4 separate regions of the Homo sapiens genome follow, and regions 1, 2 and 3 are each reported to be linked to region 4. The links are microRNA targets in miRTarBase. Many come from high-throughput screens and were not tested one by one. Region 4 holds a microRNA gene; each other region holds the end of a gene's coding sequence. Distances are between the middles of the regions.

Evidence for each region. The annotated mature microRNA hsa-miR-4739 reads AAGGGAGGAGGAGCGGAGGGGCCCU and lies in region 4 at 2,373-2,397, opposite strand. An mRNA with a match to its seed (bases 2 to 7 or 8) in the 3' UTR can be bound and repressed. Matches are read on the target gene's strand: a 7mer-m8 pairs with bases 2 to 8, a 7mer-A1 pairs with bases 2 to 7 and ends in A, and an 8mer does both.
Region 1: the mRNA of SPINDOC is a reported target of hsa-miR-4739. The part of its 3' UTR that is shown has no 7-base or 8-base seed match.
Region 2: miRTarBase lists RNF157 as a target of hsa-miR-4739. Seed matches in the 3' UTR shown: 7mer-m8 at 3,758-3,764 and 7mer-A1 at 3,498-3,504.
Region 3: the mRNA of TRIM67 is a reported target of hsa-miR-4739. Seed matches in the 3' UTR shown: 7mer-m8 at 5,771-5,777, 7mer-m8 at 5,640-5,646, 7mer-m8 at 5,060-5,066 and 7mer-m8 at 659-665.

Annotation. Positions count from the first base shown.
Region 1 is chr11:63,825,809-63,833,051 of GRCh38, forward strand. SPINDOC (spindlin interactor and repressor of chromatin binding) reads left to right here. Exons shown (of 6, transcript NM_138471.3): 6 at 1,120-1,908. The coding sequence ends at 1,331. Among named protein-coding and RNA genes, the nearest start is that of MARK2, 9.7 kb to the right of the region's middle. RefSeq lists a silencer at 5,513-5,730 and an enhancer at 6,539-7,243.
Region 2 is chr17:76,139,360-76,146,602 of GRCh38, forward strand. It overlaps RNF157 (ring finger protein 157), which reads right to left. Exons shown (of 19, transcript NM_052916.3): 19 at 3,115-5,994. The coding sequence ends at 5,876. It overlaps FOXJ1 (forkhead box J1), which reads right to left and starts at 1,886. Exons shown (of 3, transcript NM_001454.4): 1 at 1,755-1,886; 2 at 539-1,205. The coding sequence starts at 1,036. It overlaps RNF157-AS1 (RNF157 antisense RNA 1), which reads left to right and starts at 1,197. Exons shown (of 8, transcript NR_040017.1): 1 at 1,197-1,321; 2 at 3,871-3,989; 3 at 5,563-5,727; 4 at 6,063-6,205; 5 at 6,915-6,978. RefSeq lists enhancers at 1-312, 5,474-6,022, 5,989-6,048, 6,023-6,570, 6,139-6,318 and silencers at 724-913, 974-1,043, 1,722-1,881.
Region 3 is chr1:231,214,675-231,221,917 of GRCh38, reverse strand. It overlaps TRIM67 (tripartite motif containing 67), which reads right to left. Exons shown (of 10, transcript NM_001004342.5): 10 at 353-6,543. The coding sequence ends at 6,478. Among named protein-coding and RNA genes, the nearest start is that of FSAF1, 23 kb to the left of the region's middle. RefSeq lists enhancers at 591-1,091, 4,242-4,741, 6,433-6,542, 6,456-6,957 and a silencer at 5,273-5,332.
Region 4 is chr17:79,704,844-79,712,086 of GRCh38, forward strand. It overlaps MIR4739 (microRNA 4739), which reads right to left and starts at 2,406; the gene lies at 2,333-2,406. LINC02078 (long intergenic non-protein coding RNA 2078) reads left to right here and starts at 2,423. Exons shown (of 2, transcript NR_109783.1): 1 at 2,423-2,813; 2 at 3,629-7,243. RefSeq lists enhancers at 2,265-2,886, 2,887-3,508, 6,296-6,845.

The DNA.
Region 1 (7,243 bases), not on the chromosome of region 4:
TCTGTGCCACATTTTAAATAATCGTGTCTCTAAAAACAGGGTAGAAAAGGAACACACACAAATAAATCCTTCCCAATATAGACAGTGCAGTAGTTGAAATCACCATCTTCTGTTTTTGCCTTTCAATGTAATGTAACTTTTTTTTTTTTTGAGACAGTCTCACTCTATTGCCCAGGCTGGAGTGCAGTGGCGTGATCTTGGCTCACTGCAACCTCCACCTCCCAGGTTCACGCGACTCTCCCGCCTCAGCCTCCTGAGTAGCTGGGATTAGAGGGGTGCACCACTATGCCTGCCTAATTTCTTTGTATTTTAGTAAAGGGGTTCTCCATGTTAGCCAGGCTGGTCTCAAACTCCTGACCTCAAGTGATCTGCTCACCCTGGCCTCCCAAAGTGCTGGGATTACAGGCATGAGCCATCATGCCCAGCCCTAATGTAACGTAACCTTTGCACACGTCCCTGTTGCGTGCTCGTTTTTTATGGCTGCACGCAGCCACGGCAGTCCTCAGTCCTCTTTCCTCTGCCTCGAGGCCCAGCTTTGCCCATTATGAGTGCCTTCTCCATACTGGTAAGGTGGACACCTGGTCTTGGTGATGTAGGTGTTGACACTCAGGAGATAAAGAGCCTGGTGGAAGTTCGCCAGGGGTCTTTTCTGTCCCCCACGTAGTCCCTCATGAGCTCCTTGGTGGGCACAGCTATGCCTTAGACTGCTTCTGGGTGTTCCCACCCCATCACCTCTGCCCCACTCAGGCAGAACCCGTTAGGCTAGGATGCCCAGTAAGTTTGAGATAAAATGGAGTTGGCTGCAGGTAGGAGTTACAGGAAGAGGCACGAGCACCAGGCGTCCCTGTGCCAAAATACACACAGGAGGAAGGCTGCCTGGCTTCAGCTGGCTTGTCCCTAGGGAGGCTGTGCGCCTCATTTTCTAGCTGGCAGCAGTCCTCGATCACCCAGGAGTGGAGCTCCCTGCCATCCTTGGGCTTCCCCTCATGCCAGGCACTGGGCTGTGGACATAATGAAAGCCCTGGAAATGTGGGTACAGTTTGCGGAGCTTCCAGGGGGCATCCTCGTGGTGGGGTGTCTGGGGGGCTCTGACTGCTCTCTGCTCTCATCCCTGCCCAGCTCCCCCTCCGGGGCTCCGCGGGACACTGGATCTCCAGGTTATCCGCGTGCGGATGGAGGAGCCCCCAGCGGTCAGCCTCCTGCAAGACTGGTCCAGGCACCCCCAGGGCACCAAGCGTGTGGGAGCAGGTGACACCTCAGACTGGCCCACAGTTCTGTCAGAATCCAGCACCACTGTGGCAGGGAAGCCGGAAAAAGGGAATGGAGTGTAAATTCTTGCTTTCCTGGGGAGGGAGGGAGGGATGAGGCAGCGTCCCCCAGTGGCTTATAACTCAGAGCTGCCTGGCTCACCCACCTGGTGGAGAGAGTAGAAACAGGTGCCAGGGCAGGAGGGGGCTGGGGCAGCATCCACTGTTATTTCGGGGCACTGGAAAGTGTCTGTTCCTGGCCAGGCCTGAGGTCGGCGAGGGTGGCTGAGGCTGTTGTGCAGTAGGGCACTGGGCCTGTGGAGAACACCTACCCCAGTCCTTCGCTGACCCCCACCTCTGTTTGTCCCCCATGACCTCCTCCCACCCTCCCCCTGCTCCCCACCATTCTCCCTTGGCACAGTGCCTTACACAAGAGTGGTCATAAGGGGGTTTGAACTGAGTCCCACTACCTCGGGGGACACCTCTCCTCCCCACTTGTTCAGGCTTCTAAACCAGGAGGCCTCCATTACCTCTTCCTGTCCCACCCCTGCAGAGGCCTGAAGCTGGGCCTGGGCACCCCATTCACTCCCGTTCTCATTTACATCTGTTTTCCTGTTGTATATATCACCTTTGTTGACAATAAATTATTTTTTTTTATTAAGAGTTCCGTCTGGGCCATCATTGGGGGAGAGGGTTTGCTAGCAGGATACCTGGCCACCTAGAGCAACCCTGAGGGGCAGGAGGGTTGGAAGATGGTCCTGGGGGGAGCCAGGGAGCCACCTCTCCTGAAGGTGGGACAGCACCAGGGCAGGCCTCTGTGGAGCCCAGGAACGAGGGCTGACTTGTGCTATCAGTCACCTGTGGGCGTCTCACCCCCTCCCTTCCTCTCTGCTCTGGAAAGGGGGTCAGAAACAATTTTCTTTAACATTGTACCTTCTGGCTCACCTGGTAGGCCTCTGCCCAAAAGAGGTCACTGTAGAAGCCCAGGGGTGCTCACAACCAGGGAGCTGGGAATTAGCCTGAGCTTGCTTGCTTGCTTGCTTGCTTTTTCTTTTCTTCTTTTTTTTTTTTTTTTTTTTTTTTTGAGACAGAGTTTCATTCTTGCTGCCCAGGCTGGAGTGCAGTGGCGCGATCTCGGCTCACTGCAACCTCCACCTCCTGGGTTCAAGTGATTCTCCTGCCTCAGCCTCCCTAGTAGCTGGGATTACAGGCACCCACCACCATGCCCATGCCCAGCTAATTTTTTGTATTTTTAGTAGAGACAGAGTTTCACTATGATGGTCAGGCTGGCCTCGAACTCCTGACCTCGGGCGACCCACCTGCCTCAGCCTCCCAAAGTGCTGGGATTACAGGCGTGAGCCACCACGCCCGGCTTATCCTGAGCTTTCTAAAGTGAAATGGCGGTAACCAGCTTGCAGGTAGAAAGATGCCTCTCCTCCCTTTCCGTATGATGGTGAGGGGCACAGGGGTCCTAAACTCAGCCCCGCCTTTTCCAGCCCTACAGGCCTGCACCCTCAGCTGTCCACCTTCATCCCCCCCAACCCTTGGCTTAATTAAACCCAAACACTTGCTGGTTTCCCCTATTCCCTGGATCATGAGGAGGCCACTTTTGGTCTCTTCACCGGATTCCTTACCTTCCTAAACTAAACCAACAGGGGCCAGATCTGTGCGTGGTTTTCCCTTTGGTGAGATGGAGCACACAGGCAGCCCCTTCTCAAACCCCAGCTGTACTGTCCTGTTTAGAGCCCATGGCAGGTGTGGTAAGCAGGACTGTATACCTCTGCACATGCTGACAAATGTGCACATAGGAGAAGTGGGGGCACAGGTGGGACTTGGAGGGCAGCTATTCCTGTAGGACGCTGACATTGGCACATTTTTTTTTTTTTTTTTGAGTTGGAGTCTTGCTCTGTCACCCAGGCTGCGATCTTGGCTCACTGCAACCTCTGCTTCCCAGGTTCAAGCGATTCTCCTGCCTCAGCCTCCCGAGTAGCTGGGATTACAGGCGTGCACCACCATGCCTGGCTAATTTTTGTATTTTTTGGTAGAGATGGGGTTTTCGTCATGTTGGCCAGGCTGGTCTCAAACTCCTGACCTCAGGTGATCCACCCACCTCGACCTCGCAAAGTGCTGGGATTACAGGCGTGAGCCACTGTGCCCGGCCAACACTGCCAGATTTTGAGACTAACCAGGAAGTTCATCTCGGGCAGGCAGGGTCTGGGCCTGGGCAGCGTGTGCTGTGTGCTCACCTGATGGGGTGTCACCATGTGCCAAGCCAGGTATGAGGGATCTCACGACTTGGTGGGCTCCTGGGACATGATCCCTTCTCCCCATCTGATAAGCTCAGGAGGAGCCTAGAAATATACAGGGTCTTTGTCTAGGGGACATTAAAAGACAGGTGTGGTGGACAGAAGGCAGTGGCCAAGGCTTCAGGATGCCTTGTATCTAGTGTGGCTCCCCCACTGCATGATGGCAGGCAGGCAGGCCGGCCACGGAACTCCCATGTCTCAAACACCATTATCCACAGATTGGCAAAACTTGTATCCTACCTGATAGGAGGGAATAAATAATGCTAAAAATCTGGTTCTGCAAGCACAAATACTGCAAATGGTTTTCTCTCATCCTTTCAATCCTGTGACTTGTGTTTACATTTATGCCAATGTGCTTTTAAAACAACATGGCTGTGTTGCTGGGTGTTTACACTTGAGAAAACGTATGTAAAAGTTTGTTGTAAAATTGTGAAGCCAAATGCCCCTTTGCTGTTCTATGATTAATGGCTTGGCCTTCTAGACTGTGAGCTCCTGGGCAGGGACCAGGTTGTATTGACTTTGTTTTCCAAGTGTCCTGCCTGGGGCCTGGCACATAGTAGGTGCTCAATAAATGTTTCTCGAGTGCCCTCTGAGTGTGTATTCCTGTGTGACATTTTTCTAGTGCATGTTGGTCCCTGGAGTGTGGTTCTCAGCACAGGGTGGTTGCTACAGTGACTGTGCAGGGTGGGAACTTCATCCCCACATTGTGGCCAATAGGGGTCTCCCCAGCCTCAGCCAGGGCCCTGGGGACTATGTGAGTGTGTGTGGCCAGCAGCTGTGTGTGGCACCTCTGGGCTTCCAGGAAAGAGTTGGAGAAAGTGGGGCTGAGGATATGACTCCAGCCCAGGCTGGAAGGACCTTACTGACGGATTGCCCAGGGCTTTCCTACTCCACACCGGCTTGGAGTCCGTGACGCTGGTCCTGCATCCTGGTGCAACACCAGGGAAGCTCTGCACGAATGTCGGTGACTCTCAGGGCTGGTGGTGGCACCTTCATCCATGTGGTGCTGTGGCCCAACCATGTGTTTGGTTGAAGAAGTTGGGGAAGAGGGTGCCGCTGCCCCTGACTGCTGAGCCACACACCCATTTCCTGACTTCCCAGACCTCCTTGGCTCTCTGAAGCCAGCCACCTCCTGCCCTCCCAGCTGCCTTCCATGGGATCCAGGTGTGGGAGATCTTTTTGGATACCTAACAAGGAAAAACTTTCTACATTCCCAGTACTTCTGACACCAATGTTAGTGGGGAGGGGGGCGCCCACATCAATTCTCCGACTCTCCAGACACCAGCCAGCTGTTCTAAAATTCAGTTCTGACACTCACTACCCAGAGTTAGCACGGTCCCTGCAGGTGAAGGGCTCAGTCCCAGCAGACTGCCCCTGCTTCAGATACCAGTTCTAGGTCCCAGCTTGTCACCTGTACTTCTGACCAGCCCAAATTTGGAAGTTCCCACAACCCCCTCCTCAGTTTTGATAATTTGCTGTAATGGCTCACAAAAATCACAGAAACAGGCCGGGCGCGGTGACTTACGCCTGTAATCCCAGCACTGTGGGAGGCCGAGGCGGGTGGATCAACTGAGATCAGGAGTTCGAGACCAGCCTGGCCAACATGGCAAAACCCCGTCTCTACTGAAAATACAACAATTAGCTGGGCGTGGTTGCGGGTACCTGTAATCCCAGCTACTCTAGAAGCTGAGGCAGGAGAATCACTTCAAGTCAGGAGGTGGAAGTTGCAGTGAGCAGAGATCACGCCATTGCCCTCCAACCTGGGTGACAGAATGAGACCCTGTCAAAAAAAAAAAAAAATTAGGGAAACATTTACTTACATTTACTTGTTTATAAAGGATGTTACATAGGATATAAACAAACAGGTGATGAGGTACTGAGGGCGAGGTTCAGAAGGGTTCCAAGCACAGGAGCTTCTGTCCTAGTGGAGTTGGAGTGAGCCACCCTCCTGGCATGTGGATGGGGTGCTGTCCCTGACCTGGAACCTCCCAAACCCCATTATTTAGGGTTTTTATAGAGGCTTCATTAGGCACGATTGATTAAATCATTGGCCACTGGTGATTGGCTCAATCTCCAGCCCCTCTTCCCTCCCCAAGGTCTTGGGTAGGGATGAAAGTTGCAATCCCCTAATCACGTGGTTGGTTTCTCTGGCCACCAGCCCCATCCTCCAAGAGTCATCTCATTAGCGTGAACTCAGGTGTGGTGAAAAGAGACTCATTATGAATAACAAAAGATGCTCCTCTCTCCCCATCACTCAGGAAATTCCAAGAGTTTTAGTTCTGGACCAGAAACCCGGATGAAGACCAGATATATATGTCTCTTTTTTTTCTTTTTGAGTCGTAATCTTGCTCTGTCGCCCACGCTGGAGTGCAATGGCATGATCTTTGGCTCACTGCAAGCTCCACCTCCTGGGTTCCAGTGATTCTCCTGCTTCAGCTTCCTGAGTAGCTGGGATTACAGGCACCTACCACCACGCCCAGCTAATTTTTGTATTTTTAGTAGAGACGGGGGTGGGGGGGTTTCACCATATTGGCCAGGCTGTTCTCTTGGCCAGACTGGTCTCGAACTCCTGACCTCGTGATAACTCCTGCCTCGGCCTCCCATAGTTCTGGGATTACAGGCGTGAGCCACCTGCGCCCAGGTGTCTTTTTTTTTTTTTTTTTTTTTTTTTTTTTTTTGAGACAGGGTCTCGCTCTTGAGGCCCAGGCTGGATTGCAGTGGCACAATCTCGGCTCACTGCAACCTCCACCTCCAGGGTTCAAGCAATTCTCCCGCCTCAGCCTCCCAAGTAGCTGGGATTACAGGTGCTTGCCACCACCATGCCCAGCTAATTTTTTGTATTTTTAGTAGAGATGGGGTTTCACTGTGTTGCCAAGGCTGGTCTTGAATTCCTGACCTCAGGTGATCCACCCGCCTCGGCCTCCCAAAGTGCTGGGATTACAAGTGTGAGCCACCAAGCCTGGCCGATATATATGTCTTTTTATATCACAATGCTGGTAATCCTCTCTTTCTTGGGGACAAAGCCAGTCTGAGACAAGGGAACAGTCACCCCTGCCCTCCTTGAAGAGAAACTGGAGCATGTGGGAGTGTGAATGGGAATGGGGGACACTGGCTGGGCCCCTGCCGCACCCCAGTGGTGGCACTGGTCTGGTCCAGGCCTTGAGGCTTTCTAGCAGATGCTCCTGCAATCTGAGCTTCCTGTTTCTCTGCAGAAAATGCGGCAGTCACCCCCACCTCCACCCCACACACAGCTGGGCTGCTGTGTGGCTCAAATGAGACTCTGCATTTGGGGCCCTTTGTAAACTGTAAAATCCTGCACACCCCTAAGGTGTGGTAGAAGATGGGGGCTGGGATGGGAGAGGGTCTCTAATGGGCTTGCAGACCCTCTCTGCCATCGGAGTCTCTTGGGAGGGGGGCACCCTACTGAGGCTGCTTGCAGGTGCAGGGACAGGGAAGGGACTGCAACACCTCCTGGGGTGTCTGCCTTCCTACCTCCCTGGAGCCAGGTGCCTCAGCCCAGAGCCATCATGCCACCAAATTTGCTCAGTCCCTTTCTCCCCTAGAGAGAACACCCTCATTCTCAGGACAAATGTACCAGCGTCCAGGAAGGAAGAGGAGCCAGCCTTTGGGTTCCCAACACCAATGTCAATGGCTTGGATCTCCTCCAGCCCCACATCTGGTGGGGGTGGG
Region 2 (7,243 bases), 3.6 Mb from region 4:
TGGGACACACCTGGCCCTCACATGCTAAGGCACCCCTTCCATTCCACCCTCCCCAAGCCAACTGCAAAAGGGCAGGACGTAGAGCCTGGCAGGGAGGCCACGTTCCAGTTTCCGTTTCTGACTCCCGGCCCCGACAAACCATCCCGGGGCAGGGCAGTGTCTAGGAATTCTAGGACTTGGGACAAGAATGCGCCTTCAGTTCATCGCTCTCCCCAAGGAGATTCTGTCCACGCAGAGTCTAGCCCTGGTCTTTGGCCTGGGCCTGCTGGATGAATGGCAGGTTATTTCCCCTTGAATCTCAGCCTCTGCACCCCTAAAGCCCTCCACCTCTGGACATTCTCCCTTCTCTCTCTCTCTCTCTCTGGAAGTCAAAGGAGGGGCAGTTGCAAGAACTGGGCTCCTTTGCAGGGCTCCCTTCTGGGGCGCTGGCCGCACCGCAGAGCCTACTTGGCCTGCAGATTTGGGATATGAATCCAGTGCAGCGTGGGGAGCGAGGAGGGAATGGGGAGGGAGCGGCCGCCGCCCGTGCCTCCTCTACCTGCCAGGTGGGATCTGCGTGGCGGAAGTAGCAGAAGTTGTCCGTGATCCACTTGTAGATGGCCGACAGGGTGATCTTGGTGGCCTTGCTGGCCTGCATGGCCATGCAGATGAGCGTGGCATACGAGTAGGGAGGCTTCACGTGCGGATTGGTGGCGTAGTCCACGTCGTCGGGGGGTGGGGCCTGCAGCCCCGGGGGCGCGCTCCGCGACGTGCACGACGACGTGGGCTTGCCCGGCGTGTGTGGCTGCCCCAGGCAGGCGGGGTCGGCCGCCAGGGGGGACCCGGGCGCCGCTGAACCTGGCACCTGGTGGTAGCCGTGGGGGTCGGTGCCCCCCGGGGGCAGGGCGGGGGCCTTGGCGTTGAGAATGGAGAATTCCTGCAGCCACTGCAGGCTGGTCAGGCTGTCATCCAGGGCGTCGGGCTCCTCCAGGCCGCCCTCCGGCCCGGCCTCCTCCGCCGGCCCGGCTCCCGAGAGGCGCAGCCAGCTCTCCGCCATGTCTGCGGGGACTCTCCGAGGGGGCGGTCAGCATCCACGGGCTGAGCCGGGGGTGGCCCGCCGCGCTCTCTGGCCCGCTGAGTCCCGCAGCTCCCGTTACACGGCCTCCCGGACGCGCGCTTCCATCTCGCGACCCCGGGGGCGCCTCCTCCGAATAAGTATGTGGTGCCTGCGAGGACCACGGTGGGAGCTGAGCACTACCCCACCCCCGAGGGGACAGTGTGTGTACGGGGACGCCCTCTCTAACATCATCCCCGCAGCTGGGGAGGATCTTTTAGTGCCGAGGTATGGGAAACAGAAGCAAGGCCCTGGGGTCCCACCCCCATCAGATCTGCCTCCCTCTTCCTTTCCTCTTCGAGGTTTTATTAGCCAAATGAAGAGGGTAGGGGCATCCGAGGCTATCCTTTTCTCCCGAAGAGCAGGAAATCAGGACCCCCTTCCTCCTCGCAACAAATGGAAGTGGGGCGAGAAGTTTGGGAGGGCGGTACGACGGGGCGGGGGCGGTGGAGGTCCTCTGATCCTTGAAAAGGAATATTATGATAGGGGATCATTGGGAAGGAAGGGGACGGAACAGTAACGGGGGGCAGGAGGCGAGTTTCCCCCAGACTTCTCCGATGTCAGTCCCTGGGCCCACCACTTCCGTTAAGGACGAATGAGAGAGCGGGTTGGTACCGTTGCCCACCCTTCCCCCTGGCCTGCAGCCCTCCCCATCCCTTACCTGGCTCAGAGCGCAGCCCGGGCCAGAGGAAGGTTCTGGAAGAAGTTGCTCCCACCCCCTGCGGCTCTCTGCCCCCAGCTCGGGGGCCCTGCCAGCGCCTCTTGCCGCCCCCCCGCCCGACGGCGCTTCTCTGAGCTACCGCGGCCCCGGGACCGGCATTAAGTAGCCGCTCCAAAGGCTTCTCCTGCTGCCATGGCGACGCTCCGCCCCCATAAACAGCTTCCGCCTCTGCCATTGGCCAGCACGTCTCCAAGGAGACCGCGGGCACTTGCCACTCTCCCTGGCGGCAACTCTCTTCGAACTCCCTCCTTCTGCCGCCCTCTCCCGCGCCACCCAACCCCCTACCCGCCGCTAAGTCCCGGCTCGGCTCATTCCCGCCCGAGGGCCCCGCGCTGGGGTCGGAGAAGCGCGCGGCCTGCGGCACCGGGAACCGCTATGGATCCGTTCGTTCTGGGGAACCAAGACTCTCGCCCCCACCCCCTTCCTGTCCCGTACGCTTTGAGGCGTCGACTGCTCCTGGGACGGAGCCTGGGGTTGGGGGGCTAAGGCTGGGAGCGGGCTCAGGCTCGGGAACCGTATCCTTGAGGTTTTCTTTCCTCTCCGCTACGAGTGGCACTTTCTCATGTTTCTGCAGCCTTTCCCTCTCCCCCGACTCTTAGGGTCTTTCTCTGGTGTCCCAGGCAGGTCTGACTTTCCGATGCCACCTGCCGCTTACATCCACAGAGGCGGCAGACACACCAAGGGGGTAGGGTAATCCAGTGTGTCCCAGTAAGCAGCTCCTTCCCCACCCGTATCCTCGAGGTTCCAGGAAGCTGACATTCCAGAGGCTTCTGCAGAAGCGCACTCACTCCTCTGGAGACAGCTGATGAAGCAGAGCCCGTGGGTAAAACTCTGAAGTCATGGACTTGTCAAATTCTCCTAGCGGGGTCATTTGCCCAATTAATTTCACCAACCTTTAAGTCACAGGGATTAAGAGTAGAGGGACTCTGGGGACTGTGTCCCTTCCTCCTCCCTTCCCCTGGCCTCCCTCCTGTCACCAGCTTTCCTGCTCTTTAATTATTGAGGAGCTGCAGGGTTGGACGTTCTCCGGTTTAAGGCGGCTGCAGAGGCAGTGGTGGGGGCTGGGTTGATTACCCCGCCTCTGCCCAGGAGCTGGAGAGCCGGGGTCGGGGAGGCTGGTGCCCAGACCATGAAGAAGGCCCGGCTATGGCGCATCACTCCCCCGCCAACATGCCTTTCCCTAGCCCTTGCCTCTCCCACTCCTCCAACTCCAGATCCTCTTGAGTAAAAGTATTAAAGAGTGCTGGCGAAAGTCAGACAGAAACTTTCACAGATAAGCTCACTTTGCAGTTAGCTCTCCTTCCCTTGTAAACAGTTTTATTCATTTTTAAGAATCATGCAGCAATCCATAAATATTGCATTCTTGATGTCCCCACTGTAGTGTGACCACAAGTGTACTCCAGGGAGAGGGGTACACAGATGGCACAAGCAGTATACACATGCACACACCAGGTGTGCAGACCAAAGCAAAGTGAGCGACCAGCGTGCTAAACTCCAGGTGGGCAGGACCCCAACTCCCAGGTGAGGTGGGCAGGACCCTAACTCCCAGGCCAGCCGGCTTAGAGTGTGGTGGTCTGTGCCCAGGAGATGCCTCAGCGGGGGTAGAAACTCTGGTGGGATGGAGCTGGGCAGAAGGAAAAAAGGGCTCTGTGAGGAAGCCGGGATCACACCACCTGAAGGCAATAGGGAGAGCACAGGCCTAGTGCAGCAGGAAGGAGCCCTGGGTCTCCATAGTTAGGCTGTGCCCTGTGGGAGAAGCCAGGCCCCACCTCTTCTCTTTGGGTGAACTGTTGACGTGACTATGTGACTGTCTCCAGATGAAGGACTGGGGCAAAAGGGTTGGCCACTGACCTGTCCTCATCAGGCTGACTGAGGACCAGCTCCTTGGATGGAGTATTTCTGTGGGCCAGAGAGCTAAATGACAGCCAAGAGAAGGCAGGGGGAGGGAGGAAGAGGAGAAATAGTAACTGAGAAACAAGTAAAGGACATTTCTAACCTAGGTATGCCTTGGACATGGGACTGAGGCCTTGAGGAATCTTTCCGTGCTTCTCCCTAGGAGAGGACTAAGCACCTGCTGCGAGGAAGGACAGGGATCCTCAGGAAGGGGGTCCTGGCCACTGTGGCTACTGTTTACCTGAATCTCCTTCATCTCAGCTCCTTCCTCCCTCCTCCCAGGTAACACCACACTGTGAATACTACCTGCAGGGGACAGGACAGGAGGTGGTCTGTGTGCCACCACCCCAGGGTAAGGGAAGCTCCCTGTCACCTGCTGCTTCTGGGCTCATATTTCAGGGAAATCAGGAAGTGGGGTTATTGCTCAGCTTATGCATCTTAACTATGAAAGGGGCGGGAAGAATGTAGGGGGAAGGAAGGAAAGAACATTAGGTGGGGCCTGAAATGGTAAAGTCTACTGCAGTTTTTCAGAGAGGGTTGGACGACAGGCCCCCCTCTCCATCAGGGCAGGATGTGAGCCACAACCACTAGGCAGTGAGACAGTCACTGCACTCCTGGCCTCTGCAGCCACACAGAAACGAAGGACCCCCTGGGCACCAGGCTCTTTTTGAGGCTGCCTTGGAAACAGCCTTGAATTTTTTTTTTTTTGTTTGAGACAGAGTTTCGATCTTTTCAATCTTGTAGCCCAGGCTGGAGTGCAGTGGCACGATCTTGGCTCACCGCAACCTCCACCTCCTGAGTTCAAGCGATTCTCCTGCCTCAGCCTCCCGAGTAGCTGGGGAGGGCCCTTGAAGTGAAGGCCCTGAGCCCTGATTCCAACCTCTGCTCCCAGCACACTGCTGCTGGCCACATGCTGCTGCCTGAACTTAGCTCAAGGCTCTCCATCACTTCCTTTGGGGACCTGGGCACCAAACTGAGAATCACTGGTCCACATTTCTCTCAACCATTAACAAAAGGGGGTAGAGATGGGGGCAACAGGGACAAGAATGCCACCTCCCAATTGAGTGAGGATGAATTATGGTAATATACGACCACTCCTCACCCAGTGCTTGGCACACAGAGGTGGTCAACACATGTGTTTCTTGAAATGTCACCTTAGGATGGAGTTGCAGGCCTCCCTGAATGCACCTGATCAGGAGAAATGCTCCTTAAGGGAAATCATCTTAACTGGGGGATTCTCAGATTCAAGGGCTCCTTCTTTTTTTTTTTTTTTCTCTGTCGCCCAGGCTGGAGTGCATTGGCGCGATCTCGGCTCACTGCAAGCTCCGCCTCCCGGGTTCAGGCCATTCTCCTGCCTCAGCCTCCCAAGTAGCTGGGACTACAGGCGCCTGCAACCATGCCCAGCTAATTTTTTGTATTTTTAGTAGAGACGGGGTTTCGCCGTGTTAGCCAGGATGGTCTCGATCTCCTGATCTCATGATCCACCCGCCTCGGCCTCCCAAAGTGCTGGGATTACAGGCGTGAGCCACCGCGCCCGGCCAAGAGCTCCTTCTTAACCGCACAGGCATGTGAGGCCCAGAAGACTGGCTCTGCCACCAGAAGGAAGGATTGTTTCCTTCAACCAACCTTTTGGTTGCTACCATTTCTTGTCCTTGAGAAAGGTGCTCCTAGTGCTTGTAGAGGGAAACGCTACGTCCGTGCAGTATGGCTCTCCCTTTCCACAGGAGCGATCCTCCAGCCCTACCCCAAACTGCAGGTTTCCAATTGGTTATGATGTGCCAGAGACCAGGAAATGCCAGAGGGATGTTTGTAACAAAGCTGCCAAACTCTAAGCCTTCTTGTTCTACCCCCTAAGGAGAAAAAAGATGTGTAAGAAATTAGCCCATGGACCCCAGCTCCACCTGAACATCAATATACCGTGAGGACATTCCAGAGTCCCTGCAAAAGGTCTCGTGAGCTGCAGTTCATTGAGTGGCTTTAGGTCACACGGAGAAAGGAGGGTTCCAGTTCCCTCTGAGAGGTGAGGGATTGTGGTTACAGGTTGTAACAGCTGTCACAGGAGGGTAAAAAGTCTCCAGCATCTTGCTGAGGATGCCCAGTAGGCAGCAGCTGAGTGAGGATGGATGGAATGCAGGGCAGGAGGGGAGCCCAAGTGCAGAGGCTGGGGCTCAGACAGCCAAAGGGCCCCACACACAGGGCCTCGTCTCAGAGTCCTCCAGGCTGCTGGATGACAAGCGCCGGCGCTGGGCATTCCGACTGACGGCATTGTCATCAGCCTGCCAGGCACCTGGGGAAGAGAAAATGAACATTACAGGAGCCAGACCTTTGGCCAAATCCAGATGGTGTCTCCAGCAGGGCAGCCCAGGAGCCGGCACGGAAGGAGCAGGATGCGTGTCACCTGAGACTCCGATGACGGTGCGAGCCACAGCACTCGTGTGTGAGAACGGAGAGAAGCAGGTGCTGACAGGTGCAGAGCCTGCTCCTGCCCCCTGGGCTAGGTACAGTCACTGCCACTGTGGCTCCCGGACAGGGAGGGACATGAAAGATGTTCCTTGTTTTGCGAACTTACCCTGGGATCCACTTTTGTATTTTAATTACTTGGTTTTAAAGTTTGCCTATATGTTACAATAGACAGGAAAAGGAAATTGGGCCTTGCTGAGCTATTTTCATTGGGGCAGGAAGAGGTGGGGGGAAGTGAGAAGACTGTTCGTTCTGGCCGAGTGTTAATGTTTTCTGTGGGGGCCCAGGCGGGGCAGGAAAGGACTGGCCACCCAGCAGGGTTCCTGGGATGGAAGGCTGCCTGGAGGGAGGACAGTGTGAGGCTCCAGTCCCCGTCACCTGCCGTTTTCCTCTCCTCCTGCACCTACGCAGCTGTTGAGGTTTGCTACTAGCTGGTGCCATCAGCCCAGCAGACACCAGCCCAAGAGCCTCGGGGTCCCACAGATACCATCACTAAACGCATCCGCTCCCCAAATCTGCTGCTGCCCCCACATGAGGAGTGCCAGCGCCTGTCTGGAAACCCATTCTTGGTGCTTCTCTTTCCCTTGTGCTGTGGATCCAATCCTCCACAGCCTCCTGTGGGCTCACTTCCTGGCCGTGTTGTGACTCCATCTGTAGTCACGCTAACCTGGGCTCCACTCCCAGTTTACAGCAGTGTGACCTTGGGCACATCAGTTTACTGTGGGCCTTGGTTTTCTCACCCATCAGATGGGACATGCGTACTGACCTCACGGGCTTGCTGTGAGGACTAGATGAGAGAATGCGAGCGTTGGTGAGTATCTGACTCCTAGAATAGCCTGTGCTCAGGCTCCTCCAGGCCATCTCGCCTCTCCCCTGGGAGTCCTCTTCATCTCCTGCCCACAGATGAGCTCCTCCCTCCAGTGCCCTCCCTCCAGTGAGGCTAGGGCGCTCCTGCCTTGGGCCTCGGCTGCCTCCACTCTCAGGGTCCCCTGGCTCCCTGGGGTAGGGAAGGCATGTCGTCCTCCGGACCCTGTGGGCCTCCCCAGCCGTGTCTCCCAGTGGCCTCCCCTCACGAG
Region 3 (7,243 bases), not on the chromosome of region 4:
GCTAATTTTTGTATTTTTGGTAGAGACGGAGTTTCACCATGTTGCCCAGGCTGGTCTCAAACTCCTGGCCTCAAGTGATCTGCCTGCCTTGGCCTCCCAAAGTTCTGGGATTACAGGTGTGAGCCACAGCACCCAGCCTAGTTTAGAGTCATATGTAATCACCCTGAGATTTCCTGGGCACGCGAAGCAGAACCACATTGACCCTGCTACTTAGTAACGCCCAGCCCCACTGGGGGAAGAGACCGTGTGGCCTCCCCTCCTGTAGCCTCTGCCCTGTCTGCTGGGCAGTCAGGGCCAGTTGGGAAAAAGGCAGACCTGACCACGGAGCAGGAATTACAGACCACATCTTGTCTTTCTGTTGTTGGCAGTGTCAAAAGAATTTATTTCAAATCTGCTTAAGACTGTGGTAAAACTCAGGTTTTCCAAAAGGTAATACAGAAAGTTCAACTAACCCCCAAAGACCAGAAAACACAGTGTTTGCAATTCAAAAAATACAAACGCTTGTGGATACCAATACAAAAATTAGAAAAAAGTTGCTTTCCTTACCACTCCCCGCTACCCCCCGTGTTTTCAGTGGAACATCCACAGCAATAGGACCAAGAGCTGCCACCAAATACCAACAACGAGTGACCGAAAGTGGATGTGATGGGGGAAGGGGAGGGAGGAGAAATGGGGATAAAGAAAGGCAAGAAAATTGGACTTCTGTCGACGGTCAAAACAAGGACGCGAAGCTTTTTGTTTCTTGTTAAATCCCTTTGCCAACGTTAAACAAACACCTCTCATGCTTAATACAACAGCTTAGTGCCAACGCAGCAATCCTACATCATGCATTGAATGTTTTCTGCTTTGCCCGCTCCCCACTTCTTCTGGGTGCCGAGAAAGCCTGGGGCTCTGGGTGTCTGGTTTCCAGGGCTAGGAGGAGTTGGAGAGGCTTCCCCGGCTGGGTCTCACCCAGTAAGCACCTGACATGTTCCTGCTACTGCAGTTGCAAGCAGTCACCTTCCCGAACCTGAAGCCTGGTTTTGGCCTCTCCTCAGAGCTTTACCCGAGGGCCTGGCCTGGTCTGCAGTGCCCGCATCACCGGCCCACAGGTCCCTAGGCCTTTCCCAGGACTGTGCTCCTTGAGAGAAGAGCGATGGATCCGGACGAGACTTCCCTGGAGGTCTCAACTCCCAGCTCCTGACTGATGTCAACGTCAATCATTGAAAAAGCCAGGGCCTCCCCCAACCTGCATAGCTCGTGCTGGTGAAGCCCCAGCAGTCCCAGCGGTTATCAGTCATCTGAAAGTGACATGATGACCCACTAGCCCAACCAGCCTTCAAAACTTCGGCTCAGTTGCATCTCTTCGTGCTATCCACACTGGATTTCAAACCCATTCACACTGCAGAGACCCCTCGAAACAAAGGAGGCAAGCTGTGAGATGAGAGACCCCTTAGATACCAGAACTTAGGTAACAAAGAAGGCAGAGGCCTGGGTTAGTGTCCTTCCTTGGTTTAAAGGGGCTTCTGCTCACAGAGGCCTTGAGGCCTCGCAGTGAGACTGCTGACAGGTAGCCTGTTCATAGCACTCACACAGAGCGCCATTCAAACAGGCCTCGCCGGGAATGGAAACATATGGGGTGTTACTTTCTATGGTCATAGGAAACCTGTCTTAAAGGTCTATTTTACCCACTGGAGGCCAGGCAGCTCCTTGCCCTGGTCACAAGGAGGCTTGGATGGAAGACACTGGTCAGAGAACACTGGAACGCCCCCCACAGGTTTGAGTCACTGAATGGGAATCATTAGCTTAGATGCCAGAGATGAAAGACTGCACTTTTTTTCTTTAAAAATGTTATTGTATAATCCTCACAATACATCAGAGGAGGTAGGTTAGTATGACTAGTCTCATTTCAGGTGGGGATACTGAGGCACAGAAAGGATAAGAGATTGGCCCCCACTCATACCATGAATCACTATTAAAGCCAGGTTAAAAGAGGGAAGTAACCGAGGGCTGAACTTGGTGTCTGATCAATACATCCTGCCCGAAACCTGCCCTCATATTTTTACAGCCTAGATATTAGGTTAAAGCTGCAGGATCCTTTGATCTTCTGGGAGGAACTGCCAAAGAATGTGGTCAACAAACACAGCTACCGGCTCACTTGCAAAAGAAAAGTCCTGAAATTTTCCAGCATCACCATCTTGAATATTTGCCAATAAGATCTGTTAGATTTTTTTAAAAACCAATTGAGGGCCACAAACCCATTAAGAAGTTCCTGTTGCTTCCAGTAAAATGTGGCCAAGGAAAACAAAGGTAACGAGTTTTGCTTTCTAGGAAGTGGGGAGCGGGCAGGGGGCATCTTCAGTGAGTGAAAATTCAAGACCCAACAGGTTGGCATCTGTTGGAGGTGGCTCACCCCATTTTCCCCTACCTGCCCCCTGAAGACACATGGAAAATCCTGGGCTTGGGTATCAAGATAAAGGCTGGCAGCTTTGTCACATACAGGCTTTCTATGGAACAAAGCAGCCGGAGCGCCACAGTCCCTCTACAGATCCATGCATGACAAACCACTGGCATAACCTGGTGGTTCTCAACTTGTGGAGGCCCCCAGGAGATACCTAGCAATGTCGACAGATACTTTTGGTTGTCACACCTAACTTGGGGGTTGCTACTGGCAGATGATGGGTAGAGACCAGGGATGTTGCTAAACATCCTACGGCATACAGAACCTATCGCAAAATGTCAGTAGAGGTTGAGAAACCCTGGCGCCACCCCACGGGCTGTGCAGCAGTGTTCTTTAGCATTCACATGTTGACTCCCCCTAAGGATTGACCCTCCCTCACTACCTCAAAGCCAGCAGGTGGCCATGGGACCAGCAGCAGCCTCCTTGACACTGAACCACCTGCCCACCGGTGCCGAAACCCGCCTTCCCAGGGGGACCAAGCCTTTCGCTTGCAATGAGAATTAAGGCTTAAATGCAAATATCCCTGGAAGAAATACACAAAGATCCTGCATTCTGATCCTTTCCTGAGAGTGCTGTGGTGGGGCGGAGGGCAGGGGCACCAAGAGGGAGAGAAAGGGCGCAAAGAGGAGGGTGGGCCTGCCCCCAGCTCTCTTGGTGAGCTCCACAGAGCCTGCCCAGGCTCAATCCGGAAAGCACCACCCTCCTCAAACTTGGTGGGCCATAGGGCACCTAGGGCGCTGTTGCAACTACAAAGTACATATCAGGCTGAAGATGCAGCCTGGAAATATATACAGTTTTATAGTGTTTAGGTCAGTTACCTTGTGGGTCAGTATTACTGGTGTCCTCTTTAATTGGAATCATTATTTTCCCAAGGAGAACAGAGAGAGGAAAAGCAGGCTTTGGGGAAATACCTTCCCCTGCTTTGAATTAGGAGCTGGGATGCTATGTATGCAGTGAGGTGCTAGTGGATATTTTCGGAAGAGATTAATTTTAAAAGGAAAAGGCATACACTTTGACCAAGCTTGCTCACTAGCAAAGAACAACTGCAGAACCACATTACAGAGGCACTATTTACAATGCAATGGAACTCGACATTTTTAAACTACTTTGAATTCCTTTTTCACTGAAACTGCTTGATAGATTTACACCAAGTTACTCCTCAGCCAGCCCAACAAAAGCCTCATCTTGATATCATTTATATGTATGTACAAATGTGCCACCATGATGTAACGTGTTATGGAATTCGATGGTGGATGAGAATTCCATGACCTGTCTGTCATTTCTACTCTGAAACCCGGGACCTTCCTGGCCATGAGGAATTGATAAGTTCCTTCTTCACTTTTCTGATCCCTCAAAAACACAAGTGTGTGGCACGGACCTGTCGTTCTCTTTGAAGTCAGAACATTGAAGGTGTTTTGTGCTGAAGACAGGAGAGGTGTCTGTGAAGGAGAGCTGGATGCTGTCCCTGGCATCGGCCGTATTGCTTCTGGGCTCCTGGAGGAGTCAGAAAAGGGAGAATCCCAGCCCCCAAGCTCAGGGTGGCAGTGGGGAGGAGGGAGTCCTGGCTGCACCTCTCTGGACTTCAGGGAACTTTTTTCTGAAAGAGGCCACCGGATTTGAGGGCATTACCCTCCTGCACTTTCCACTTCTCTCCTGACCTGGATGCTGCTCCCTCAAAGGGGTTAGGTTCAGGGTAGCCCCAGGCAACTTGTGCTCCAATGATGGGCGATTCTTCTGCAGAGCTGGGGCCACCTGGTGACCTGGGCTGTGGTGATGGTGGAGGCTCCACAGCCTTCCCCAGGGCTCCCCTGTGAGAAGCTGCTGTCACCAGGCAGCCCTGCCTAGCCCACTCTCATTCTGGGGGCAGGGTGTAGGCCTGTTTTTTTTTCAGAAGAGAGCTAGACACTTCCCAAAGCTGATGGCTTCCTTGGCCCCAGGAAAGTGGTGGCTCCTCTTCATCCTCAATCTTTAGGGATCGTCTCCATGCTCCAAGCAAAGGCCACCCAGAGCTATGGCTAAGGATGAAGCTGCAGGGATATGGGAGACAGAGGCAGAGGTGCGGGCAAGGACACAGGGTCCCAGGTCTTGTGTGTCACCACCAAGAGCTCTGGACAGGGCTCTGGGATGGGAGGAGGAGACCCAGAAACCGCTTGGTGAGATGACAAGGAAGAGGCAAGACCTAGACTTCCATGAAGCAGATAGCTCCCAGGCTCCGCAGCAGAGACTGCAACACAGCACCGAGCAGCTCCTGGAGACGGGGCAGCTGGCCTTGCCGGCCACATCTGCAGAGACAGCGGACCAAGCAGCCTTGCAGACCAAGAGCATGAGCTTTGAGGTAGGATTGTCGGGCCTGCTGAGTGGAGGGGGGGTACCTGCATGGCTCCGGCAGGCAGTTACTCAGAAAGCAGGCGCGGTGTCTGAACAGGAAGGCAGAACCAAGGACGCACAGTTGGTGCTGGTGAATGGGCGAATTTTATAAAAATCCAGTCCAGCAAATTGACAAGTCACTTCTCAGCCTCAGAAATAAAATGCTTGACAAAATATATTCTTTTTAAAAGGAGAGAGAAATGTTACTACCAGGTGGAGCTGGAGGTGGCAGGTGACTGGGAAGATGAGAGGAGGGAGGAGAGGAAGGGTTCCCTGGGAACAAGAGCCTGGCAGGCTCAAAACCCCTGCCATGAGCTGTCTCTGAGAGGTGTGGATGAATCAATGTGGATCTCAAGGGAGAAGCCTGGTGTTTCCAGAGTCCTGCCCTGGCAGGTCAGACTCGGCACACCCAGTCTCACAGTGGGAAGCTGGGAGACAAGGTACCTGATACTGCCCTTCTATTTCCTGCCTTCCCCAGAGATCCCGCCCACTGCATCAGGGCAGAGCCGTCCCGGCCTGCCACAGGGGCCACTTGTGTTCATGATGCTTTCATAATGACAATAGGGTGGACTGACTAGAACAGGCTTTCCCAGGGTCTCCCATTTTAAATGCTTATGAGTCTGAGAGTGGTTCAGCTCAGAAGAGCAATCTGGATGCATTTTCAGTTAACTTCTTGGGCTGCCAGTTTCAGAAAGGAGCCATCACCAGGCGAAGACCTATGACATAGTTGTTAAAATTCTTGTGTTTTCACGTGGATTTAAGAACTAAGAACTGAGTGAATTAATTTTAGGAGACTGTCATGCCTGTGTGTGTGTGAGAGAGAGAGAGAAGGAGGGAGGGAAAGAGAGCGAAAGAGGGAAGAAAGAGGCAGGGATGGAGGAAAGTAAGAGAGAAGGAGGAAAGGAAGAAAGAGAGAGCAAAGGAGGGAAGGAAGGAGAGAGAGAAGAAGAGAGAAAGAGAAGGAGGGAGGGAGAAGAAATGAAGGATGGAGGAAGAGAGAGAGAGAACACAATTGGCTGATTAATAAAGGAAGCCATTTTAAAAGGTTCTAACACTTCAGTGAGAGAGGCAAAAGTCAAGCATGAATGATTAATGTCCCTTTCTATCAATCCTGCATTGGGTCTGCAAGTGGCAGGTGCTACTAAAGACTCTAGGACCAAGAAGCTAAAAGATAACTTTCTCAGCATGATGAGAATCTGCAATCTCGGGACTCTGAGGAGGCAAGGTCCCCACGGAGGGCCAACACCCGGGGCGTGGGATTACAGCGCAGCTCCTGACTGCCGCTCTCAGGAGGCCAGTCTCAAAGTCTACCTTCCTCTCCCTCCAAAAAAAGACAAGCTTTGAAAACAGATGGCAGGAAACATAGACATGAAGCCCGAATGCTGACTCCCTTGAGAAAGGTCCTTCTTGGGGAGTGTTCGTAATGTCTGGGTGGAATAAGGGTGACACACGTACCTTCCTTTGCCACTGACAGTGGCAGCTGTGAGCATGGCCCGTGGACCCATTCCCTGCGTCCCCAAGAAAATGTGTTTCTATGACACTCCACGCTGCCAGGTTGCACCCATGATTTGCATATCCTGCTTTTGTGGGTTATTTGAGCTTAGTGAGAATGGTGGGCGTTTTGCCTGTGAATGTCACTGTCACAGGCACAGTGCCGAGCTGGAGCGGGGCTAATTGCCTGACAGCTTTGGCCGCCCCAGGTTAGTCGGCACTTCCAATCCTGTGTGCAGGGTGACCTGGAAAAGAAGACAGGGCAAGTGAGGGTGGGAGAGGCTGCCGCAGGGACCCTGAGGGCTCTGACAGCACCGCAGACACCGGCAGGATCCCCTGCTGGCTCCAGGGCCATCCATGCAATAGCTCAGGGCTGCTGTGGACTGTTGAATATTACGTCCCCCAGTATTCCTAATTAAAGGCTATGTTGGTTTGCACCTCTTTCCTCATAATAAGAATCACCCAGCTGACTGGTTCCTCATTTTGCCAGAGCTGCCACAGCTGGGCAAAGTAGACGCCATCACAGGAGCACGGCTCTCACGCACTGGCTCCCGTGGTTACATATTTGTGTCTACTTTCTAGCCATGACCTTCTTTCCTTTCCTATTAAACCCATTCTATTAACTGTGAGGAATTATAGCCAACCTCTTATTTTTTGGATTAAAAAAAGCTTATCTGTTCATTGGTAGAGATGGTGTCTTGTTCATTCCCCAGGCTGGTCTCAAACTTCTGGGCTCAAGCGATTCTCCTGCCATGGCCTCCCAAAGTACTGGAGTTACAGGCGTGAGCCACCATGTCAGGCCAAGCCTAAGCCTATCTTTTTTTTTTTTTTTTTTTTTTTTGAGATGAAGTCTCGCTCTATCACCCAGGCTGGAGTGCAGTGGTGCGATCTCGGCTCACTGGAAGCTCCGCCTCCCGGGTTCATGCCATTCTCCTACCTCAGCCT
Region 4 (7,243 bases):
CAGGTCTCGTGAGAACTCACTCACTATCACGAGAACAGCAAGGAGGAAATCGGCCTCCATGATCCAATCACCTCCTCCAGGCCCCTCCTCCAACCCTAGGGGTTACAGTTCAACGTGAGATTTGAGTGGGGACATAAATCCAAACTGTACCAGTGGTGGCTGCACGATACTGCATACGTGCTAAAAGCCACTGAATTGTTCACTGTAAAATGGTTAATTTTATATTATGAGAATTTCACCTGGATAAAATAAAATTTTAAAAATAAAGTTAAAACAACAGCAATGGCTGGGCACGGTGGCTCACACCTGTAATCCCAGCACTTTGGGAGGCTGAGGCAGATGTGTCACTTGAGCTCAGGAGCTTGAGACCAGCCTGGGCAACATGGCAAAATCCTGTCTCTACAAAAACATACAAAAATTAGGCGGGTGTGGTGGCGCACCTGTGGTCCCAGCTACTGGGGAGGCTGAGGTGGGAGGAACACTGAGGCTGGAAGGTTGAGGCTGTGGTGAGCTGGGATCGTGCCGCCGCACTCCAGCCTGGGTGATGAAGCAAGACCCTGTCTCAAAAATAGCAATAATAATAACAATAATAATAATAACAATAATGGCAGCGAGCACTCCGGAGGCGCTCACTCTGAGCTGAAGAGGGTTCTGAGGGCTTTGACCCAGTGAATTGCTGCAGGACCCTATGAGGTGGGAACTTCTCTGTTGCCTTTTCCCAGCTGAAGGAACCGAAGCTCAGACACGGTGAGTGACTTACCCAAGGTCACCCAGCCACTAAGAGGCCAAGGGGACAAGAGAACTGAGTGTAAGGAGGAAATCAGGAAGAGACTGACAGGAAGTGAGCAGGGGACAGTGCGCAGCTGTCCTCGTGATGGGCCCAGCCTTGAAGGCAGCGTTCCGGCTCCCAGAGCTGGCAGCAGGAAGACATTGCTGGAGGGAGCAAGAGGTGGGGCGGGCAGGAGGGCCACCTGAGCCCTGAGCCCTGAGCCCTCAGCGGGCTCCTTGGAGAGTGACCTGGACCTTAACATTGACCCTGGCACCCCGCCTGCTGTTCCCCATGACGCCCCACGCCCCCACCCTGCGTCTGCTCCTGTGACTTGAGGAAACGGACCGACCTCCTTTAAAGGAGGGGTTCCTGAGCCTGGGGAGCGTGACTTCCGAGCCTGTCCGAAAACACCAAACGCCAAAGACACCGAAGCTGTTCCACAGAAGCCGCAGCCGATCGAAAGCCATTGCTGCACGGGATTTTCTTTGGAATTGGTTTTTGGTTCAGGTATTTTTTGGATTAGCATCATCAACACTAGAACTCAACATGAGAAATCCTCCTGGCACCCTCAGACCCCCAGGATCCACCCGCAGCGCCCCACCCCTCGGGGGTCTAAGGACGGGGCCACGGGAGGTGCTCCCCACGCCTTAGCTAGACGCAAGGCCCTCCCGCAGGCTCCCGCAAGCCCATCAGGGCTGGGCGTTTCCCACCCCTTCCCACCCCACCCATCCACCTTCCGTCCAAGCAGGAGTGCAGCCTGCTTGGGCTCAGCGTCCCCTCTTCTGAGAAGCAGCCCGGCCCCATCCTGAGCGCCCCTGGGCCCACAATCCCTCCTCACGTGTGTGGGGCTGGCCGTTGATGTCGCCTGGGCTGGGGGTGCACCTGCAGCGCAAACACGTGACTAAGCATCTTCCTGTCCCGGGCCCTATCAGCGTTGGGCCCCAGGCAGCCCCTCCAGGGGCTACAGTCACCCACCCACCTACAAAGCCCCTCATCTGCAGCGGTGGCTTCATTCCCGGGACGCGCCCCAGGCTCTGCTCAGTCATGGCCCCCAGACCCTCAGGAGCCCCCGAAACATGATGACCTCCAGCCACGTGCCAGCTGCCAGGAGGAGGCTTCAAGACCCCAGATGAGCACCCGGCTGGCCATGCCCCAGGGACAGAGGACCCAGTGTGACAGAATCCGGCCTGGGCCACAGCCACCCACACAGTCCATCCCAGTTCAGCCCGAGGTGGACAAGAAAAGTCCCACCAGGGACTGGAGCAGATGGGGCGGGCTCCGGACCCCTGCCTGGTCCACCATCTGTCTTGCCAGTCGGTCCGTCTACCCAGGCAGCCCCTCCTCCCGGCCCACCATCTGCCCGGCCCTGCTAGGCCCTCCTCCTGGCTCCTCCAGGGCCCTCAGGAGGAGACAGAGCTGGAGCCAGGGCCCAGACCTCCACTGCCTTGGGCCCGCCCCATCTGGCACCTCCAGAAGAAGGGGGCGGCAAGAGCTTGGCCAGGGCAGGGGCACTCCAGGGCAGCCGAAGGCCCTTGCCAGCTGTCTCATGATGAGATGAGCAGAGGGAGGGGGAGGGGAGGAAGGGAGAGGCTCTGGGAAGACAAGGGCCCCTCCGCTCCTCCTCCCTTCTTCCTCCCCTGCCCACGTGGCCTGGGCGGGAGGGACACGCCGATGGGAACATCCCAGCTGGTCCAGGCCTCTGCTCCCCCCAGCTCCTCCTCCCTGGCGGGCAGCTCTTCTGGGCTCCTGAGGTGCTGCGCAGCCCCTTCCCTGGCCCTGGGACCCCCAGTGCCTGAGATGAAAGAGGAGTTGCTTCCATGGACGGTCCCAGTGCAAGCTGGGGGGCGCTGGCCTCAGGACACCAGGCATCCAAGACATAGGGACACCAGAAGCCCCGGCTCTGCCTCTGAGGTCCAGCAGCCCCAAAGCCCCTGCTCAGAAGCCAGCGATGGGAGGGCAGGGCCTGCCTGTGGGACCCATCATGGGCGCAGCAATCGCCAGGCCCTGGGCAGACAGCAGCACAGCCTGTGAGTCCAGGGCTGGGGTAAGTCGGCAAGTGCACCCCCGGAGGTGGAATGACAGGAGCTCCTGTGGAGGACGCAGGCGACCCCCGCCCCTCACTCCACTGTGAGGCCTGAGGATGTACAGGGGCAGCTCTCCCTGGCTTATGAAACGCCCCCACCCTGCTGCCCCTCTGGGTCCTCCTCACCCTGTGGCCTGCAGGGTCAGGAGCATGACTTTGGTGTCAGGAGAGAGGCTGGCTCCTGCCTGTGGCGGGTGTTGGGGGAGGAGTGGGGTTCATTATAAATTACGCTCCCCTCGAACCCGGCTGTTAGGTGAGGGCAGGGCTGGGATTCACCCTGCTCTCTGCAGGGGAGGGTCAGCCCCCAGGTGCTCCTGGGTGGGTCTCCACGGCAGGCCAAAAGGGCAGGCCCTGGGCATGTCCACCCCCTGTCTCTGGTCCCACAGCCCCCTACTTGCCACCTGCCCTGAGCAGCCCCCAGGAGAGCACCCGCAGGGAGGATGCTGAGGTGCTGGAGGGCAGGAGTCCCAGCTGAGGCTGTGACCCCAGCTGTGCTCCCCGTTCCCTCTTAGGACCAGCAAAGACCCAAGGACAGGCGGCCAATCAGGGCCCGGTGTTTACCCCTCCTCCCCCACCCCCATCACGGGCCTCCCGCAGGACCCCCAGGAAGAGCAGCTTCCATTGACCAAGGTCGGGGGACGCCCTCCCGCTGACACTCACTCTCCACGGATCCTGGAGCCCACGAGTCCCCTCCCCACCTCCACTGCACTGGGCCCCCCGCAGGCCCTGGTGGGGGTGGCCACGGATAACCACACAAACATGCATTTTCCTTGTAGGAGCAGGCAGGTGACAACCAGTGTCCTACTTTCCTGCATTAAAACACCCAAATCAACAGGACGGAGAAGGCCCGGAAGAGGGGACCTGAGGGAGCCAGCCGGGCGCTCAGCCTGCTTCGCTGGGATGCTTGTCGAGGTCGGGACGGCACCACCAAACTCACCTCTGTGCGCCCTGCGGGGCCCAGGAGACTCGGTCCTCCCTGGGCTCCCCCAGGCCTGGGGTGGACGTTGGAATAAAGTGGGGACAACACGATGAGAGACCCCAGCCCTGGAGGTGCCCTCGGCCAAAGCCCGAGATCAAAGCTGGGAGATTCGTGGCTGGACAGCACCACCTGGTGGACACGTTGGAGATTACCAAAGCCGAACAGTCAATTCGTTCTTGGTTCTGGGATTTTCTTAATTGGGTCTTAGCTGGGCCTTCCTTTCTCTTTCCCCAGTAGCAGGGGCTTTGTGACTATCAGAAACACCTGCCAGGCCTGGGCAATATGGCGAGACCTCATCTCTACAAAAAAAAAAAAAAAAACACAAAAATTAGTGAGGCGTGGTGGTCCCAGATACTCAGGACACTGAGATGGGAGGATCGCTTGAACCCGGGAGGTCGAAGCTGCAGTGAGTCGTGATCATGCCACTGCACTCCAGTCAGGGTGACAGAGAGAGACCCTGTCTCTAAAGAAAGAAAAGGCCGGGAGCAGTAGCTCACGCCTGTAATCCTAATACTTTGGGAGGCCGAGGCGGGAGGATTACCTGAGGTCGGGAGTTCGAGACCAGCCTGACCAACATGGAGAAACCCCATCTCTACTAAAAAATACAAAAATTAGCCAGGCATGGTGGCGCATGCCTGTAATCCCAGGTACTCGGGAGGCTGAGGCAGGAGAACCACTTGAACCTGGGAGGCAGAAGTTGCAGTGAGCCGAGATCACACCATTGCACTCCAGCCTGGGCAACAAGAGTGAAACTCCGTCTCAAAAAAAAAAAAAAAGAAAGAAAGAAAGAAAAGAGAAGAAGTCCTTGTCTTCTAATAAGATGTTGTTGGTTTCAGAGAGCCCAATCCAGGCACTTCAAACAAGGCAGGGAAATCAATGGCCCTGAAGAAAGTTTCTCTTCGACAAGCCCCTCCCTCCCTGACACTGGCATTCTGGCATTCACCCACCAGCCCCTCCGTCCCTGACGCTGGCACCCTGGCATTCACCCACCAGCCCCTCCCCTCCCTAATGCTGGCACCCTGGCATTCACCCACCAGCCCCTCCCCTCCCTGATGCTGGCACCCTGGCATTCACCCACAAGCCCCTCCGTCCCTGACGCTGGCACCCTGGCATTCACCCACCAGCCCCTCCCCTCCCTGATGCTGGCACCCTGGCATTCACTCACCAGCCCCTCCCCTCCCTGACACTGGCACCCTGGCATTCACCCACCAGCCCCTCCGTCCCTGACGCTGGCACCCTGGCATTCACCCACCAGCCCCTCCCCTCCCTGATGCTGGCACCCTGGCATTCACCCACCAGCCCCTCCCCTCCCTGATGCTGGCACCCTGGCATTCACCCACCAGCCCCTCCCCTCCCTGACACTGGCACCCTGACATTCACCCACCAGCCCCTCCCCTCCCTGATGCTGGCACCCTGGCATTCACCCACCAGCCCCTCCCCTCCCTGACGCTGGCACCCTGGCATTCACCCACCAGCCCCTCCGTCCCTGACACTGGCACCCTGGCATTCACCCACCAGCCCCTCCCCTCCCTGATGCTGGCACCCTGGCATTCACCCACCAGCCCCTCCGTCCCTGACACTGGCACCCTAGCATTCACCCACCAGCCCCTCCCCTCCCTGACACTGGCACCCTGGCATTCACCCACTGTCTGGGGCAACTACCCTTTCCTCCCACCACTGATGGGACGGCACCCTGGCACCCTGGCCTACCAGTTTTGAGGGGAAAAAAATTAGAAATCTTTGGCCAAAGAGGGGACAAATTGAGCCTAAAATCAAGCCTTGGTGTCTCACTTTTTAAATCTACTTTTACCTTTTGTGTATTGGTTGTGTGATTTTTTGTGTACTCATTGTGTATGATTGCTGAATACACAATGAATACACAAAAGCTATAAATAGATTTAAAGAGAGAAAGCAAACCAAAACCCATCGGTAATCCACTGGAAAAACAAGCCTCCAACTCTATTCAGAACATTGTCAATTAAAAGAAAAGAATTAAGAATTTCCCTTTTAAACTATATTTCAGGATAACTCAATAACTCTAGTGGACAACAGCAAGTATTTTTGGTTTTTGTTTGTTTGGTTTCTTTTTTTTGAGATGGAGTCTTGCTCTATTGCCCAGGCTGGAGTGCAATGGCACAACCTCGGCTCACTGCAGCCTCTGTCTCCTGGGTTCAAGTGATTCTCCTGCCTCAGACTCCTGAGTAGCTGGGATTACAGGCGCCCGCAACCAGGCCCTGCTAATTTTTTGTATTTTTAGTAGAGTTGGGGTTTCACCATGTTGGCCAGGCTGGTCTCAAACTCCCGACCTCAGGTGATCCACCCACCTCGGCCTCTCAAAGTGCTGGGATTACAGGTGTGAGCCACCACACCCAGCCTGTTTGGTTGTTTTATTTAAGAGACAGGGTCTCGCTCCATCGCCCAGGCTGAAGTGCAGTGGTGTAATCACAGCTCACTGCAGCCTTAACCTCTTGGGCTCAAAGGATCCTTCTGCCTCAGCCCCCGAGTAGCTGAGACTACGGGCGCGCACCACCACACCTGGCTAATGTTTTATTTTTTTGTAGAGATGGGGTCTTGCCATGTTGCCCAGGCTGGATTCAAGCTCCTGGCCTCTCTCACCTTGGCCCACAAAAGCTCTGGGATTACAAGCGTGAGCCACCGTGCCCAGCCTTTTTTGTCGTTGTTGTTTTTAACAGAACAATTTCAGCTACTCATTGTGAAGGAGATGAGATCATGAGAGAAACCATGATTTTGCCACCTCTCATGACATAAGTATTTCTCGCAAGGGTCATGGATGAGATCAGTAATGACAAAACTAGGGCATCACAGGGTGGATCCGGGCTATGACCACCTGGACCCACGGGGCACACTTAGCATCACAGGGTGGGCCCAGGCTGTGGCCACCTGGACCCACGGGGCACACTTAGCATCTCAGGGTGGGCCCGGGCGATGGCCACCTGGACCCACGGGGCACACTTAGCATCAGAGGGTGGGTCCGGGCGATGGCCACCTGGACCCACAGGGCACACTTAGCATTACAGGTGCTTCCATGTGGCTCTCACAGCTCTGCCCACGAAGGCTTCTGGCAAAGAAAGATGAGCCTGAATCTAAGGGCGTTTCTGCGGCACAGCTTCCATTTGCAGGAGACACGGGGCGAGGCGACACCACAGAGAGGCAAACAGCAGCGCGATAGGCCACACATTTGCAGGACAGCTGATCTGGTTTCTGCAACAAATCACAAGTGGTGGGAGGAGCAATGGGGGTCGGGGGCGGCGCCTGATCTAGAGTAAGAGAGGTTCAAGAGGCGCCACCACAAAACTTAAACTTTGGGCCTTGTTAGGAACCTGTGTGTTCCATCTGATGGACGTAAGCAAACAATCAGGGGAATGTGATTCTGGATGGGGCCTGAGCGGGT